Linked DNA regions of Homo sapiens: region 2 is linked to region 1. Evidence: fine-mapped expression QTL. A gene starts in region 1. The other region holds a variant in brackets. All regions are shown on one strand. Distances are from middle to middle. Region 1 holds the start of MAPRE1 (microtubule associated protein RP/EB family member 1). Region 2 overlaps MAPRE1 (microtubule associated protein RP/EB family member 1).

Region 1 (8,338 bases):
GGCTTTTTTTTTTTCCCCACCTGGAGACAGAATCTCACTCTGTCGCCCAGGCTGGAGTGCCGTGGTGTGATCTCAGCTCACTGCAACCTCTGCCTCCCTGGTTCAAGCGATTCTCCTGCCTTAGCCTCCTGAGTAGCTGGGATTACAGACGCATGCCACCATGCCCTGCTAATTTTTGTATTTTTAGTAGAGATGGGGTTTCACCATATTGGCCAGGCTGGTCTCGAACTCCTGACCTCAAGTGATCCGCCCACCTTGGCCTCCCAAAGTGCTGGGATTACAGAGCCATCATGCCACTGCACCCGGCCTAGAGGCTTTTCCTGATTTGGTTTTCTACACTGATCTCATCCCCCATACTAATGTCCTCACTCCAGACCAAAATGGCCTGCAGGTAATGCTGATACCAATTAATTGACATAATTTAATAACTGACTTTAGACGAAAGGACTCAGAAATCACATTTATTGAGCACATACTATGTGCTAGGCGCAGTCTGATAACTTTATACACTTCCCATTTAATTCTAACAGAATTTGAACCCAGACATACTGGCTTCGCCGTTTATTATTTAGCCTAATGAAAAGTTAATGTCTTTGTGGATAAAACAGAGGTGGCTGGGTGTGGTGGCTCACGCTTGTAATCCCAGCACTTTAGGAGGCCAAGGTGGGCGGATCACGAGGTCAGGAGTTTGAGACCAGCCTGGCCAATATGGTGAAACCCTGTCTCTACTAAAAATACAAAAATTAGCCGGGCATGGTGGTGTGTGCCTGGAATCCCATCTACTCAGGAGGCTGAGGCAGGAGAATGGCTTGAACCCAGGAGGCGGAGGTTGCAGTGAGCCGAGATCACACAATTCCACTCCAGCCTGGGCGACAGAGTGTCTCTGTTTCTTCGTTTTTTAAAAAGAATATAAATAAATAAAATACAGGTAACAGATGTTGCATCAAAGCACTTATAAATATCTTTAGTTGATTATCTATGCTTGACATCAGCTCACCATAATGTTCATATTACTGCTGTCGCTATAATCATTTGTTACATGGTTTTTTATTCTTTATTGTTGCCTCTTTTTTTTTCTTTTTCTTTTCTTTTTTTTTTTTTTTTGAGTTGGAGTCTTGCTCTTTTGCCCAGGCTGGAGTGCAATGGTGCCATCTCGGCTCATTGCAACGTCCACCTCCTGGGTTCAAGCAATTCTCCTGCCTGAGCCTCTCGAGTAGTTGGGATTATAGGTGTCCGCCACCATGCCCAGCTAATTTTTGTATTTTTAGTAGAGACGGGGTTTCACCATGTTGGCCAGGCTGTTCTCCAACTCCTGACCTCGTGATTTGCCGACCTCAGCCTTCCGAAGTGCTGGAATTACAGGCACGAGCCACCGCGCCTGGCTTTTCTTGCCTTTTTTTGCTCAAACTCTGTTTTTTTTTTTTCTTTGAGACAGAGTCTTGCTCTATCACCCAGGCGGGAGTGCAGTGGCACGATCTCAGCTCACTGCAACCTCCACCTCCTGGGTTCAACCAATTCTCCTGCTCCATCCTCCCAAGTAGCTGGGATTACAGGCGCGCGCCACCACGCCCAACTAATTTTTGCATTTTTAGTAGAGACGGGGTTTCACCACGTTGGTCAGGCTAGTCTCAGACTCTTGACCTCGTGATCCGCCCACCTCGGCCTCCCAAAGTGCTGGGATTACAGGCATGAGCCACCACAACTGGCCTTGCTCAAACTCTTTTGCCAAGGTAACTCCTCATCTTTCATGGTAAGTGTCATTTCTGGGAAGCTTTTCCACACTACCTAGGAGAGGTCATGTCTCTTGTGGTGTGCTCTTGGAGCAGTACTCGAGACCGAAGTATTGAAATGCCTCTAGACCTGCTGATAAACAGCTCCTGCCCCAGCTTCCCCACCCATTCTTCCCTGAACGTCTTACTGGGTTTCAGCAACTAACTGGGTGAGATTTGGCCTAGAGGGACCTCTAGGCCCCTGCTCCACACAGTGGAAGTACCATCAGCCCACCACATAATGTCCCTGCCTAGCATTGAGCCTGATTTGTAATTTAACAAGGATTTGTGTCATTAGTTGTGTCCCCTTTGCCTCCCCTGCCAGTCTGGAAACTTTAAGAGGTCAGAAGCTGTGTCTAGTTTTCGTTTTTATCTCTTAGAGATGGAGTTTCACTCTGTTTCCCAGGCCTGGAGTGCAGTGGCGTGATCTTTGCTCACTGCAGCCTCGAACTCCTGGGCTCAAGCGATCCTCCTGCCCCAGCCTTCCCAGTAGCTGGAACTAAAGGCACGTACCACCATGATCAGATTGTGTCTTTTTTTCACCAGGGCCTGATTGGTCAGGGAAAATATTTGTTGAATACTTGAATAAATGATACCCAGACAAAAAAAGTCAGCTTGAAATCTGGATCTACCTCTGACACTGAGTGAGTCAATTGGCCTCTTTGTCCCTCAGTTTCTTTCTGCTGTAAAGTGGTGCAGTTCCTCTTTTTTTCTTTTTTAGACGAAGTCTGACTGCAACCTCTGCCTCCCAGGTTCAAGTGATTCTCCTGCCTCAGCCTCCCAAGTAGCTGGGATTACAGGCGCCCACCACCATGCCCGGCTAAGTTTTGCATTTTTAGTAGAGATGGGGTTTCGCCATGTTGGACAGGCTGGTTTCCAACTCCTGACCTCAGGTAATTCATCCGCCTTGGCCTCCCAAAGTGTTGGGATTACAGGTGTGAGCCACCACGCCCAGCCCAGTTCCTCCTTCAGCCAAGGCTCTCTTGAGAATGTAAGGGCCAGGTGTGGTGGCTCACGCCTGTAATCCCAGCACTTTGGGAGGCCGATGCGGGTGGATCTCTCGAGCCCAGGAGACCAGCCCAGCCTGGGCAACATGGCAAGACCCCATCTCTTAAAAAAAAAAAAAAAAAAAAGAGGGAGTGGGCAAGAGAGAATGTATGTACAGCCATTGGGAAACAACCCGGAACAGGACTCAGGAGGTCCTTGCTCCTGTGGACTTTACAGGAGACAGACAGTAAAGGCACAAGATGCCTTCTTATGGTACTAAGAAGAAAATATGCCGCATGATATTGCAGATGGGGGGGCGGGGGCGTCACAGAACGTGACTTTTTTTTTTTTTTTTTGAGACAGAGTCTTGCTCTGTCGCCCAGACTGGAGTGCAGTGGTGCAGTCTCGCCTCACTGCCACCTCCGTCTCCTGGGTTCAAGTGATTCTCCTGCCTCAGCTTCCCAAGTAGCTGGAATTACAGGCGCCCACCACCACGCCAGGCTAATTTTTGTATTTTTAGTAGAGATGGGGTTTCACTATGTTGGCCAGGCTGGTCTCAAACTCCTGACCTCAGGTGATCCTCCCACCTGGGCCTCCCAAAGTGCTGGGATTAAAGGCGTGAGCCACTGCACCCGGCCCAGAAAGTTGACTTCTAAGCGTTTCCCCAAAGTGTCTATTAGGTATCTTTATGATTCAATAACCCATTCTTACAGAAATTAATTGTAAGCCTGGGAGCGGTGGCTCACGCCTGTTATCCCAGCGCTTTGGGAGGCTAAGGCGGGAGGATCGCTTGAGGCCAAGAGTTCGAGACCACCCTGGGCAACACAGCGAGACCTCCATACATCTCTAAGCAAAAAAAAAAAAAAATTCATTGTAAAAGCAATTTTCTTTTTGGTTACTGCCATAGGGATTTTGTAACTGAGTCACACCGGGCCGAGGCGGGACCTCATTGGCTGCGACCGACCACGTGCCGCAGTCGCCCCGGCGGTCGGGGCCCCGCCCCTCGGCTACCGTTCTGTGGATCAGGGGCCGAGCTCCGCCCCCGGCGCGCGGCTGAGACCCTCTCTATAAAAGGAGCCGGCGGAGGATGGCGAGCCTTTACGTCGGCGCGTAACGAGGGGGTGCGTGTGAGGTCATCGCGCGGGCGGGCGGGCGGGGTCTGGCGGTTTGAACGAGACGAAGACGGAACCGGAGCCGGTTGCGGGCAGTGGACGCGGTTCTGCCGAGAGCCGGTGAGCCGGCTAGCGGGCCCGGGGGGTGCGGCTGGGGGGGCGGCCGCGTGGGCCAAGGCCGGGCGTGCGCGGGCAGGCCCTACGGGCAGCGCCAGGGCCGTTCCACACGGCGGTGCTGTTCGAGCCGGGTGGGGGAAGGGCGGGGCCGTCACCCGGCGCGCGCGGGCTGGGCCTGGGGGCGCGCGCTGCGCTCTGCTCAGGGGGCGGGGTCTCGGGCCGGAAGTGGGCTGCTGCTACGCGGGGTGGGGGTTTCTGGGCCGCCGCTGAGGTGTGGTCCCTGCGCTGCAGCGACTGGAGGTCCCAGGGTGGTTGGGCCCTGGGAGGGTGTGGGCGAGGTGGGCCGTCCTGGGAGCTCTGGGGACGCACATTGTGGGAGGCCGTGTTGCCTGAGGGCCGAGAGATCGGGTGGTGGAGTCAGACCTGGGTTGGGTTCCGTGCGGTGTGACCTTGGACAGGTGCTTTAACCGCTGTGGATCTCAGCTTCCTCATCTGTAAAACGGGGACAGTAATACTACCCACATTAAACTCTTAGCGCGATGTATGGCAGAAAGTAAGCCAGCTCTTGGACTCCCTCCTTTCTTCAGTGTGTGTTTATTGAATGCCCACTAGGTGTTGGGCACCGTGCTAAACCCTGGCTGTTTTCCCGGGAACAAAGATTTGCTCTCCAGGAATCCACATTATGATGAGCAGGAGGACAGTATAACGGGATGGTATCAACAGTGCTAGTTCAGTCCCTACTTCACAGTTGCCCTCGGATGCTGCAGGGCAGAGCTTGACCTCTGCCCCATTTTGGGGATGAGGATCCTGGGGCCCATTGAGGGAGGTTATGCTAGGCCGGGCATCCGCTTCTCCGATGGCATGTCTCTAACAGTAGTAATGATAATAGCAGCTCTTTGTTAGTTGGGCACTTGTTTTGTGTCAAGCACTGTTAAGTGCTCCATGTGGCTTTGTGTCTTTTAATACTAACACTGTCTTTAAGAGAGATTCTCTTCTTCCTTTTTTTTTTTTTTTTGAGACAGAGTTTTATTCTGTTGCCCAGGCGTGCAGTGGCACCATCGCTCACTGCAACCTCCGCCTCCCGGGTTCAAGCGATTCTCGTGCCTCAGCCTCCCGAGTAGTCGGGATTACAGGCGCGCGCCACCAAGCCCGGCTAATTGTTGTATTTTTTAGTAGAGACGAGGTTTCGCCATGTTGGCCAGGCTGTTGTCGAACTCCTGACCTCAAGTGATCTGTCCGCCTCGGCCTCCAAAGTGTTGGGATTACAGGTGTGAGCCACCGCGCCTGGCAAGAGAGATTACTTTCATTTTACAAATAAGGGGTCTGAGACTCTGAGAGGCGGAGTGTCTTATGCAGCCCAGCAAGTGGCTGAACCCCCACCTGGGACTTCAGTGTCTAGGCTCTTAACCTCTTTATTACACTTTCTCCCTGAGGTCCAGAGCTACACATCCAGATGTGCCCTTTGTGGTGGTGCGTCAAAGTGCCTAGCACAGTTTTTGGCACAGAGGGAAGCTTAGGACGTGATGTGCCTTTTGCTTAAGTGTTTTCATGTAGATTTTTGTTTAATCCTTACCACCACTTTGTGCAGAGATACTGTTTTACCCATTTTACAGGATGAGCCATTTGTGATGCAGGAAGATTAAGTGACTTGCCCACGGTCACATAGGTCCTTTCTGGTGGCACCTCCTTCCCCCACTTTACATAGGGCTTATTGTGGTGCCTTGAAAGTAATAGAGTGCTTTAGAGCCAGCGTTGAATTTGTATAGGTTTGGGATCTTGCTAGGAGAGCTGCTGAAGGAAGAGAGATTCCTGGGTAGGTTTGAGGGAGCTTTTTCATGGTGGTGGTGGAAACCTGGATCAGGAAGCCTTGTAAGGGTGAGATTTGTGTGGTAGTCATGGGTCTTCCATGGCTGCCAATGATGGAATTGTGAAGGAAGGGTGAGCTGGAGCTCTGTTTTGATTGTCAGGAGGAGCCAATTAATTGATTGAGTCGGTGGATGTTCATTGTACATCCACAGGGTGCCTAATCCATGTATTTAGTGGCTGCAGCGTTTGTGGAGCACGTGGGACCAGGTATTAATGTACTGCTAATGAAAGTTTTAAATTATATGATGATGAAAGGCCATTAATGTTTTTTGAGCTGGGGTGTGGTCAGGAGACACACATGGCTTTACCAGCTGCTTAGATTTTATAGCAGCATGATGCACACGATACAGTATATATAGGAATGTCGCCATAATAGATTACAATTGCTCAGCTGGGACCATGTCTTTTTTGTTTGAATGTCTCTGGTACCTGATTTTGCGCACAGTATTTTGTTCATTCAAGGATTTTAAACAAGGGAGGCACTTGCTGTGATTTGTGATTCAGGAAATTCTCTCTGGTTTGCTGTGTAAGAACAGATTGACACAGACAAATTTGAAGACTGTTGCAGTGCATCTCCGTGCAAGATGGTGCTGGCAGGTCTCAGGCGCACTGTTTTTGGCATTGGAGATAGGAGGATGAGTGAGACAAGGTCCCTACCCTACATCTTGTTTGTTAAATACCTCTTAAATTTGATGCCATGCCAAATATTTTATGTACCTTATCTAATTTAAACCCTTCTATGACCCTTTTCAGATAGGTGGCTTTAACTTGTAAGGGAACTGAGGTACATTGAGTTTAAGTAACTTGCCTAAGATCACACAACTAATGAGTGACTGCCTCACATTCAAACCCATGTCCTCCTGGCTTGAAATCCTCAGCTGTTTGCATCGAGTGGATTGCTTCCTGGCCCAAATCTGGCTCGAGAATGGTTCAGAAATAACGAGATAATGACAATTCATTGTGGGACTTCCTATCATAAAGGTTTGAATGAATTGCTCTGGAAACATAGGGATTAATTTCCCAGTGGAGTCAGTAACTAAATTGTGTTGGTGTCTTGCATAACATGGTTTTATCAGCTGATTTGGGGAGTGTAACAGTGTTGATGATTTGCTTTCTGACAAGTTTATATAGACACATTTTTCTCTCTTTGACGCTGTTCTGCCAACCTGAAAATAAGTAGTGAGTGCTTGCTATGTGCAAGATACTATGAGGTGCCTGGGAGATGTGAGGGCACGCAGACCTGGCAAGTTATTGACCTCTACAGACCTCAGTCACCCCATAAAAAGGGGACTGGATGGGTGGATTTGCCTCTTCTGGCTGTCACATTCTGTGGCTTGGTGAGTCAGGAGGCTTGCAGCAGCTTAGTGCAGGAGACTGATGTGGAAAGACCAACTCTAGTCACTAGGTGGAGGGAACGAAGTACCGTAAGAGAGCAAGGGGCTGGGATCTCAGGATTGTTCCAGATTGCTCTGCATCTTTCCCCTGCCCCTCCCCACTGGTAATGTTGCTGTCTTATGAAATGAAGAAAATTGTTAAGTGTCTAGGTCACTATGAAGTCTCTGGTATTTCATAGTGTGTCCTCATGGTGACTGCTCAGGGATTTGATTTAGATCTGGATTAGCCTGCCTTTATCTTGAGTCTTCCCTCCCTACTGTCTGTTCTCTACTAGTAGTCAATGTGATCTTTTTCAAACTGTAATGAGAGCAAGATTCTACCGCACTTAAAACCTGAAAGTGCCTGGGTGTGGTGGCTCATGCCTGTAATCCCAGCACCTTGGGAGGCTGAGGCGGAGGATTGTTTGAGGCTGGGCCGCAAAATGAGACCTGGTCTCTACAAAAAATTAAAAAATTAGCTGGGCTTGGTGGTGACCATCTGTAGTCCCAGCTACTTGGGAAGATGAGTCAAGAGGATGGCTTGAGCCTGGGAAGTCAGGGCTGCAGTGAGCCGTGATTGTGGCATTGCACTCCAGCCTGGGTGACAGAGTGACACCCTGCCTCAAAAAACAAACCCAACAGTGGATTTCTTAATAGAATAAAATCCTAACTCCTTCTGTTCCCACCTCAGGCTCTGCTCTCCTTGCTCACTGGGCTGGAGAGCCCTATCTCTAGAGCTTCATGTGGTTGCTTCTTTCTCTGATCCTTAAGCTCAACTGTTCATCTCAGAGAGGCTTCCTCTGACCACATTCCGTAAACCCCGTTGCATAAGTGGTTGGTATGAAATGATGTTTGTTGGTGTATTTGGTCAGTGTCAGACTTTGCACCACTAGAATGTGAACTCCCTGTGGACAGGCACCTTGTCTCTTGCTTTTCTGTATCCTGGTCCCTAGAACAGTGCCTAGCACGCGGTAGAGCTAGTAAACATTTGTAGAATGAGTGACGGTTGACTACACTGGTGCTCATAGACAATAACGCCCACATTTACTAGCATTTGAAAATTAGACTCATTGCTGTGTGTTTATTGTTTTGAATTTGAAAGCCTAGCAGAAAA
Region 2 (8,315 bases), 30 kb after region 1:
ATCTCCTTTTGGGTTAGAAGTCTGCCTGATATTTTATTGCCATACTAATGCCAAGCATCTCACCCTTTTTAATGTCTTGTGCAGGTCAACGTATTGAAACTTACTGTTGAAGACTTGGAGAAAGAGAGGGATTTCTACTTCGGAAAGCTACGGAACATTGAATTGATTTGCCAGGAGAACGAGGGGGAAAACGACCCTGTATTGCAGAGGATTGTAGACATTCTGTATGCCACAGATGTATGTGTTTGACATGAGGATATTTTCTTTCCATTTTACATAGAAGGGTTGGTGAACTCTGTGCTGATGCTTGTTGTATTCCAGTGTTGCATTCATCAAAAGACTTCATCTTTAACCCCTCAAAGTCAGCCAGAGGGCATCTCTGCCCAGCTTTAGCTTCTGCCTGAGGTCTGTGAGCTTTTGAAGAAGGAATAGGACAAGGAGGTGGCTGGCTTGCCCAGCATCTGTAGTATGTGGCCACTGATAGGTGATGAGTGCCACAAACTGCTCTTAGCCAGAAGCAACCCATGTCCTCACTCCACCCCACCTCCTATTGCTTGGATCCCTCAGCTTCAGTTGCTGCCTCCATTTTATCAGGGCCCGGGGCATGCCCGGAAAAGCAGGCACATGCTCCCTTTTTCACGGCGTGCCCACATATCACGTCATGTCTGGGTATGCCTTTCTCCTCCCTCCTAGGAGTTTGCCTGGTTCTCACTCCCTCAAAGTACTCTATGATCAAGTTTCTTTGGATCCATGTTTATTGCACAGTCAAATCTGTTGATATTAATCACGACATGTTAGTTGATCAGGGAAGACTCATTTTTTTCTAGATTTAGGATTGTTATCCGGCTGTGTCCACTGTTTAATGGTGATGTTTGTAATTCTGTGTGCCTAGCAAGGTCTGTAGGATCAAACTACAAACTTCTGGTAGTATGTGTAGCACTATGCAAATACAAGGTAGTAATAATGCTGTTACTGTCACTGTCCTTGAGACATATCTTGTGAATTTCAGGGGATTAAGACAGATGACTGAAAAGTTGATAATCTGTTGAATAAATCTTTAATTTAGAGCTTGCTCTGTGCTATGTAATGAAAAAAAGACAACGAAGATATAGGGGGTCCTTGGTTTAGTCTGAGTATTATTTTAGTGGAGCCACATCTTAAGTAAGTTCAGCTATAGAGATTTAGTTAATAGAAATAAGATGGTGGTTGAAAGAGAAGTCTGATTTTACAGCAGAATAGTATAGTAATTTCCTGCTCTGAGTCCATGCCAGAATGCCCTGTAGTGAGAATGAGGTGTGTGGGAGTCATGAATCTGCTTTTTCCTTGTGCACTCAATTTTTCTGCCACTGATGTTGGGTCAGTCTTGCTGTTGTGAATATTTTGGGTAAAGCATGGCTCCTAAGTATAACAAAAGGAAGGCATAAAAGGAAAGCTGGCTGCATAGACAGTTTATTGAGAGAAGATGTTAGAGTACTGAACTTTACAGGGGACTTCAGGAATTTTTGAGGGAAATTTTTTTTTTTTTTTAGTGACGGGGATCTCACTTTATTGCCCAGGCTGGAGTGCCTGGTGGTGCGATCATGGCTCACTGCAGCTTTGACCTCCTGGGTCAAGCAGTCCTGCCTCGACCCCGCTGGGGAGTAGCTGGGACTACAGGCATGTCCCACCAGGCTTGGCTAGTTTTTTTTTTTTTCGAGACATTGTCTCACTGTGTTACCCAGGCTGGTCTTGAACTTCTGGGCTCAAGCCTTGGCCTTCCAAAGTGCTAGGATTACAGGCATGAGCCATCACACCTGGCCTTCTTTCTTCTTTAAAAAACAGTTTTATTGAAGTATAACTGACATAATAAACTGCACATATTTAAAATGTACCTTTGATGACATGGGTGAAATTACCACCATAATGAAGACAATGTAAATATGCATCACTTTCAAAAGTTTGAGGGTAAATTTGACTGTGCTCAGTTTTTGTCTTTGGTGAGATGCAATTCTACTACCCAAGAAATAAAATAGCAGTCACCTGGCCTGTATAGAGCCAGGAAGAACCATTGTTTTTAAGAGGCTGTAAGTATGAGGAAAGTGAACTCACAGTAGAAATGGATCTTTCAGTGGCTTTCCCCTCTCATTTTCCTATTTCAGGAAGGCTTTGTGATACCTGATGAAGGGGGCCCACAGGAGGAGCAAGAAGAGTATTAACAGCCTGGACCAGCAGAGCAACATCGGAATTCTTCACTCCAAATCATGTGCTTAACTGTAAAATACTCCCTTTTGTTATCCTTAGAGGACTCACTGGTTTCTTTTCATAAGCAAAAAGTACCTCTTCTTAAAGTGCACTTTGCAGACGTTTCACTCCTTTTCCAATAAGTTTGAGTTAGGAGCTTTTACCTTGTAGCAGAGCAGTATTAACACCTAGTTGGTTCACCTGGAAAACAGAGAGGCTGACCGTGGGGCTCACCATGCGGATGCGGGTCACACTGAATGCTGGAGAGATGTTATGTAATATGCTGAGGTGGCGACCTCAGTGGAGAAATGTAAAGACTGAATTGAATTTTAAGCTAATGTGAAATCAGAGAATGTTGTAATAAGTAAATGCCTTAAGAGTATTTAAAATATGCTTCCACATTTCAAAATATAAAATGTAACATGACAAGAGATTTTGCGTTTGACATTGTGTCTGGGAAGGAAGGGCCAGACCTTGGAACCTTTGGAACCTGCTGTCAACAGGTCTTACAGGGCTGCTTGAACCCTCATAGGCCTAGGCTTTGGTCTAAAAGGAACATTTAAAAAGTTGCCCTGTAAAGTTATTTGGTGTCATTGACCAATTGCATCCCAGCTAAAAAGCAAGAGGCATCGTTGCCTGGATAATAGAGGATGTGTTTCAGCCCTGAGATGTTACAGTTGAAGAGCTTGGTTTTCATTGAGCATTTCTCTATTTTTCCAGTTATCCCCGAAATTTCTATGTATTATATTTTTTGGGGAAGTGAGGTGTGCCCAGTTTTTTAATCTAACAACTACTTTTGGGGACTTGCCCACATCTCTGGGATTTGAATGGGGATTGTATCCCATTTTACTGTCTTTTAGGTTTACATTTACCACGTTTCTCTTCTCTGCTCCCCTTGCCCACTGGGGACTCCTCTTTGGCTCCTTGAAGTTTGCTGCTTAGAGTTGGAAGTGCAGCAGGCAGGTGATCATGCTGCAAGTTCTTTCTGGACCTCTGGCAAAGGGAGTGGTCAGTGAAGGCCATCGTTACCTTGGGATCTGCCAGGCTGGGGTGTTTTCGGTATCTGCTGTTCACAGCTCTCCACTGTAATCCGAATACTTTGCCAGTGCACTAATCTCTTTGGAGATAAAATTCATTAGTGTGTTACTAAATGTTAATTTTCTTTTGCGGAAAATACAGTACCGTGTCTGAATTAATTATTAATATTTAAAATACTTCATTCCTTAACTCTCCCTCATTTGCTTTGCCCACAGCCTATTCAGTTCCTTTGTTTGGCAGGATTCTGCAAAATGTGTCTCACCCACTACTGAGATTGTTCAGCCCCTGATGTATTTGTATTGATTTGTTTCTGGTGGTAGCTTGTCCTGAAATGTGTGTAGAAAGCAAGTATTTTATGATAAAAATGTTGTGTAGTGCATGCTCTGTGTGGAATTCAGAGGAAAACCCAGATTCAGTGATTAACAATGCCAAAAAATGCAAGTAACTAGCCATTGTTCAAATGACAGTGGTGCTATTTCTCTTTTGTGGCCTTTTAGACTTTTGTTGCCCTAAAATTCCATTTTATTGGGAACCCATTTTCCACCTGGTCTTTCTTGACAGGGTTTTTTTCTACTTTAAACAGTTTCTAAATAAAATTCTGTATTTCAAGAGTATCATGTCTTCTGAAATTTGTCTTGCCCTGGGTATATGCTGTTAGGTTCAAGTGATGGGAAACCAGTGCTTCTTTCTTCAGTGAGGACTGATCTTTTCACATCCTTTACTGATTTTTCAGATGTGCTTATTTCTTCTTCTTCTTCTTTTTTTTTTTTTTTTTTTTGAGATGGAGTCTTGGTCTGTCGCCCAGGCTGGAGTGCAGTGGCATGATCTCGGCTCACTGCAACCTCTGCCTCCCAGGTTCAAACAGTTCTCTGCCTCAGCCTCCCAAGTAGCTGGGATTATAGGCACCCACCACCACGCCCGGCTAATTTTTGTGTATTTTTAGTAGAGATGGGGTTTCACCATCTTGGCCAGGCTGATCTTGAACTCCTGACCTCGTGGTCCACCCACCTCAGCCTCCCAAAGTGCTGGGATTACAGGCGTAAGCCACCGTGCTCGGTCAGATGTGCTTATTTCTAAGCTGACTTCTTTTTTCTTCATTCACATTATATTGTACAGCCTCCTGCTTTTTAAAATTCTCGTTGCTGTAAGAGGTTTTTCCTCTCGGAAGTCCAAGGCCTGGCCTATCTGCTGTGAAGCCTTTTCAGGGCATTTCCTTCTGAGAAATATAGCAGGACAGTGCTTGGCAGATGACTGTGGGGAGATTTTTTTTTTTTTTTTTTCTGAAGGTGTGATTCTTTCTTCCTTTCTTTTTTGAGACAGGGTCTCCCTCTGTTGCCCAGTCTGGAGTGCAGTGGC[A/G]TGATCTTGGCTCACTGCAGCCTTGCCCTCTTGGGTTCAAGCGATCCTCCCACCTCAGCCTCGTGAGTAGTGGGGACTACAGGCATGCACCACCATGCCCAGCTAAACTTTGTATTTTTTGTAGAGATGGGGTCCCCTTATGTTGCCCAGGCTTGTCTTGAACTCCTGGGCTCAAGTGATCCTCCCACCTTGACCTCCTAAAGTGCTGGGATTACAGGTGTGAGCCACTGCACCCAGCCCTGAAAGTATGTTTCAAAGTCAGTTAACATGATCTTAATCTATAAAATAATCTAAAATTGTCACCATTTTTTTCTCCCTTATAAAATTATATGCTATTAGAAATGAGTTCAAAAGGAGACTTGCTGCCATTTTCTGTCAGAAATAAAGTTAAATGGGCAGAGATAGTGTGTTGTAGGATATGTAGAGTCATGGTTATGGATGCTCTATAAACCCAACCTGATGATCTTGACAAGGGTTGCACCCATAGTTAATGGTATGATACCTCCCTTAAAGTGTTAAATACCTTCAGAAGGAATTTGACACCATATGTATTGGTCATCTACAAGAAGATACCTTCCAGGAGTGCAAGGAGTTTGTGAAGATACTGTTGGCTACTGTCAATTGAGAAGTTACCTTGGTAAAGAGAGAAGCCAAAACTGTGGGTATCTGACCAAGTGCATTGACCTGGCTCTTGAATTTGAAGCACATACAGTCTTTGCTGCTTGGTTTGCTTGGCAGGTTCTGTGTTTCATGAAGGATAGGTAAACAAATGGGTTCTCTGGCTCAATTTGGATCATTGTTCATGCTGATGATTCTCAAACTGATGGGCTTCAGAATCACATGGGGAACTTGTTTGACATAATGTATTTATAAAAATTCATCACCAGAGATTCTGAGTTTGGAGGTTGAAAACCTGCATTTTAATTTGGGCCTTATCTACATGTCTGCAATTTTAAATAATAATTCTGGCAAGGGGAACATCAGACTTGAGTCCTCTTGCAGGTCTCTCCTGCTTTGTGAGTTTTGAGCTATTTGACCTCTCTTGTTCTTACATGCAAGACAGAGATGATGATTTTGGCTGACGTGCCTCCCTCACTGGGTACTTGTTGGGATTAGAAGGAGCTGATGGACCAAAAAAAAACAGCACCACAAAGCTAAAAAGCTCTGTACAGACAAGAGGCATTATTTATGGCACAAGTTCTTCAGATCTGGTCTGAAATTCTGTTTATAGATTAGAAAAAGCTTAGGACAGGGCTTTTGTATCCTCAGAATTCGGAAGGGCATTCCTTCAGACAGGCTTTGGGTGTTTTGTAAAATACACCCAAAGTATTTCCTTTTCAGCATGGTATATGGACAAGTAGAACTCCCTTATGTCTTCAGGCTCTTATGTTTATCCTGTTTTTGTTTTCTTTTAAATGAAGATTCAATGTCTCAGATTCATTGATTAAAAACCCATATTTTCTTCAAGATTTACTCTCTAGAATGTGAAGGGTTTTGAAAAGGAAGCATTTTTCTTTTGCCCTAGCCAAGGTGATCCTCTGTAGTTTTTCTTTTAAGGATTGTTTTAGAAGATTGAGTATAAAGGACTCCTTTTGTGATGTTGACCATAGTTCATTGCAAAGTCCACAAATAAAAATCCAAGCTTTAGGCCTGATCAGCCTAGTCAGATTAGCTTGCTAGCATGTGGGTGACCCAAATCTGATTGTTGACAACAGAGAACATTGCTTTGAAACAAGCTGAACCTCAGTCTGTGATCAGTGTTGTGAACCACCCGTCATTTTTCTGGTCTGGCACTGTTGTAATATGTCTTTTTTTTTTTTTTTTTTTTTTCCCCAGACAGTCTTGCTCTGTCACCCAGGCTGGAGTGCAGTGGCACGATCTTGGCTCACTGCAACCTCCACCTCCCAGGCTGAAGCAGTTCCCGTACCTCAGCCTCCTGAGTAGCTGGGATTACAGGCCTGTGCCACTATGCCTGGCTAATTTTTGTATTTTCAGTAGAGATGGAGTTTTGCCATGTTGCCCAAGGTAGTCTCGAACTCCTGGCCTCAAGTGATCCACCTGTCTTGGCCTCCCAAAGTGCTGGGATTACAGGTGTGAGCCACCACTCCCTGCTTGATATCATACTTTTGGATTCACACATTTAGTTTGTAAAATGTCAAAACCAGATGAGTTCATATTTATTTCTGTATCTTCATGACGCTTGCTGCTTTTTTTCTCTTCATTTTCACATGCGAGGGTATAACTGAGTGTTCAGGGTTTTCTCTGAAAGCCTGAAGGGATTGTGTACTTTTACATTGAACTTGACTGCAGTTAGAACCATTAACCTAGATGACTTCAGCCAAATTATGTATTGTTTTTGTTTTTGTTTTTTTGAGACAGGGTCTCCTGTCACCCAGGCTGGAGTGCAGTGGCACAGTCATGGCTCATGACAGCCTCAACTTCCTGGGCTTCAGCTGTCCTCCCACCTCAACCTCCATAGTAGCTGGGACTGTAGTGCACACCACCATGCCTGGCTGGCTAATTTTTTTTTTTTTTTTTTTTTTGAGACAGAGTTTCATTCTTGTTGCCCAGGTTGGAGTACAGTGGTGCCATCTTGGCTCACTGCAACCTCCGCCTCCTGGGTTCAAGCGAGTCTCCTGCCTCAACCTCGAGAGTAGCTGGGATTACAGGCGCCCACCACCACACCCAGCTAATTTTTGTGTTTTTAGTAGAGACGGGGTTTTGCCATGTTAGCCAGGCTGGTCTGGAACTCCTGACCTCAGGTGATCCACCTGCCTCGGCCTCCCAAAGTGCTGGGATTACAGGCGTGAGCCACCATGCCCGGCCAATTTTTTGGTATTTTTTGTAGAGACGGGGTTTGCTATATTGCAGGCTGGTCTTGAACCCCTGGGCTCAAACAATTTACCCATCTCTTCCTCCCCAAATGCTGGGAGGTGTGAGTCACTGTGCCTGGCCCAAATTGCTATATAGCCGTGACTTGTGAAGGTCTGTTCCCCCTTTGGTTTAATCTGATTTGGGAAGTAATGTTACCTTAGTCCTTGGAGTGCAGAAGCTTTCTCTGTACTCTATTGAGGTTGTATCCAGTAGCTTCATTAATTTGGTTATCTAGGTGAGCAGGTCAAGCCTTAGAGTCAAATTTCTAGGCTCCTCAATCTAGAACCTTAAATCTTGAGGTGCGTGTGTGTATCAAAATTGTAAATAACTCTCGTTTCCTTGTATTGGAGGCTCTCAGGTTCTGAAATGTGAAATGGAAATAGCCTTCATAGACACGTTTCTGAGTGTGAGGAGGCAGTTCTTTGTCCTGTGACCATTTGAAAGCAAACCAGGTTACCCACCAATGCCTAGAACTTTGTAAGTGGCATCAAGATATAAATTTATAATTGTAAAATAACCTATCAGCAGTTTGGGGCTGGGTGTCATGGCTCATGCCTGTAATCCCAGCACTTTGGGAGGCCAGTGCAGAAGGATTGCTTGAGCCCAGGAGTTTGAAACTAGCCTGGGCAACATAGCAAGAGACCCTGTCTCTATTTAAAAGATTTTATATATATATATGATCATATATAATATATATAAGATATATATGATCATATATATAATATATATATATATGATCATATATATCTTATATATATATATGCAGTTTGGAATTCTATTTGTCTTGCCTTATTTGCTTTTTAAAAATTTCTACCTTAGTTTTTTCC

Evidence for each region.
Region 2: its variant is fine-mapped to the expression of MAPRE1 in sun-exposed skin (GTEx, PIP above 0.99).

The regions. Positions count from the first base shown.
Region 1 is chr20:32,816,041-32,824,378 of GRCh38, forward strand. It overlaps MAPRE1 (microtubule associated protein RP/EB family member 1), which reads left to right and starts at 3,914. Exons shown (of 7, transcript NM_012325.3): 1 at 3,914-3,988. RefSeq lists a silencer at 3,631-4,220 and enhancers at 4,293-4,962, 4,963-5,632.
Region 2 is chr20:32,846,534-32,854,848 of GRCh38, forward strand. It overlaps MAPRE1 (microtubule associated protein RP/EB family member 1), which reads left to right. Exons shown (of 7, transcript NM_012325.3): 6 at 85-237; 7 at 2,139-3,872. The coding sequence ends at 2,195. Among named protein-coding and RNA genes, the nearest start is that of EFCAB8, 8.2 kb to the right of the region's middle. The variant A/G (reference allele first, on the strand shown) is at 4,615.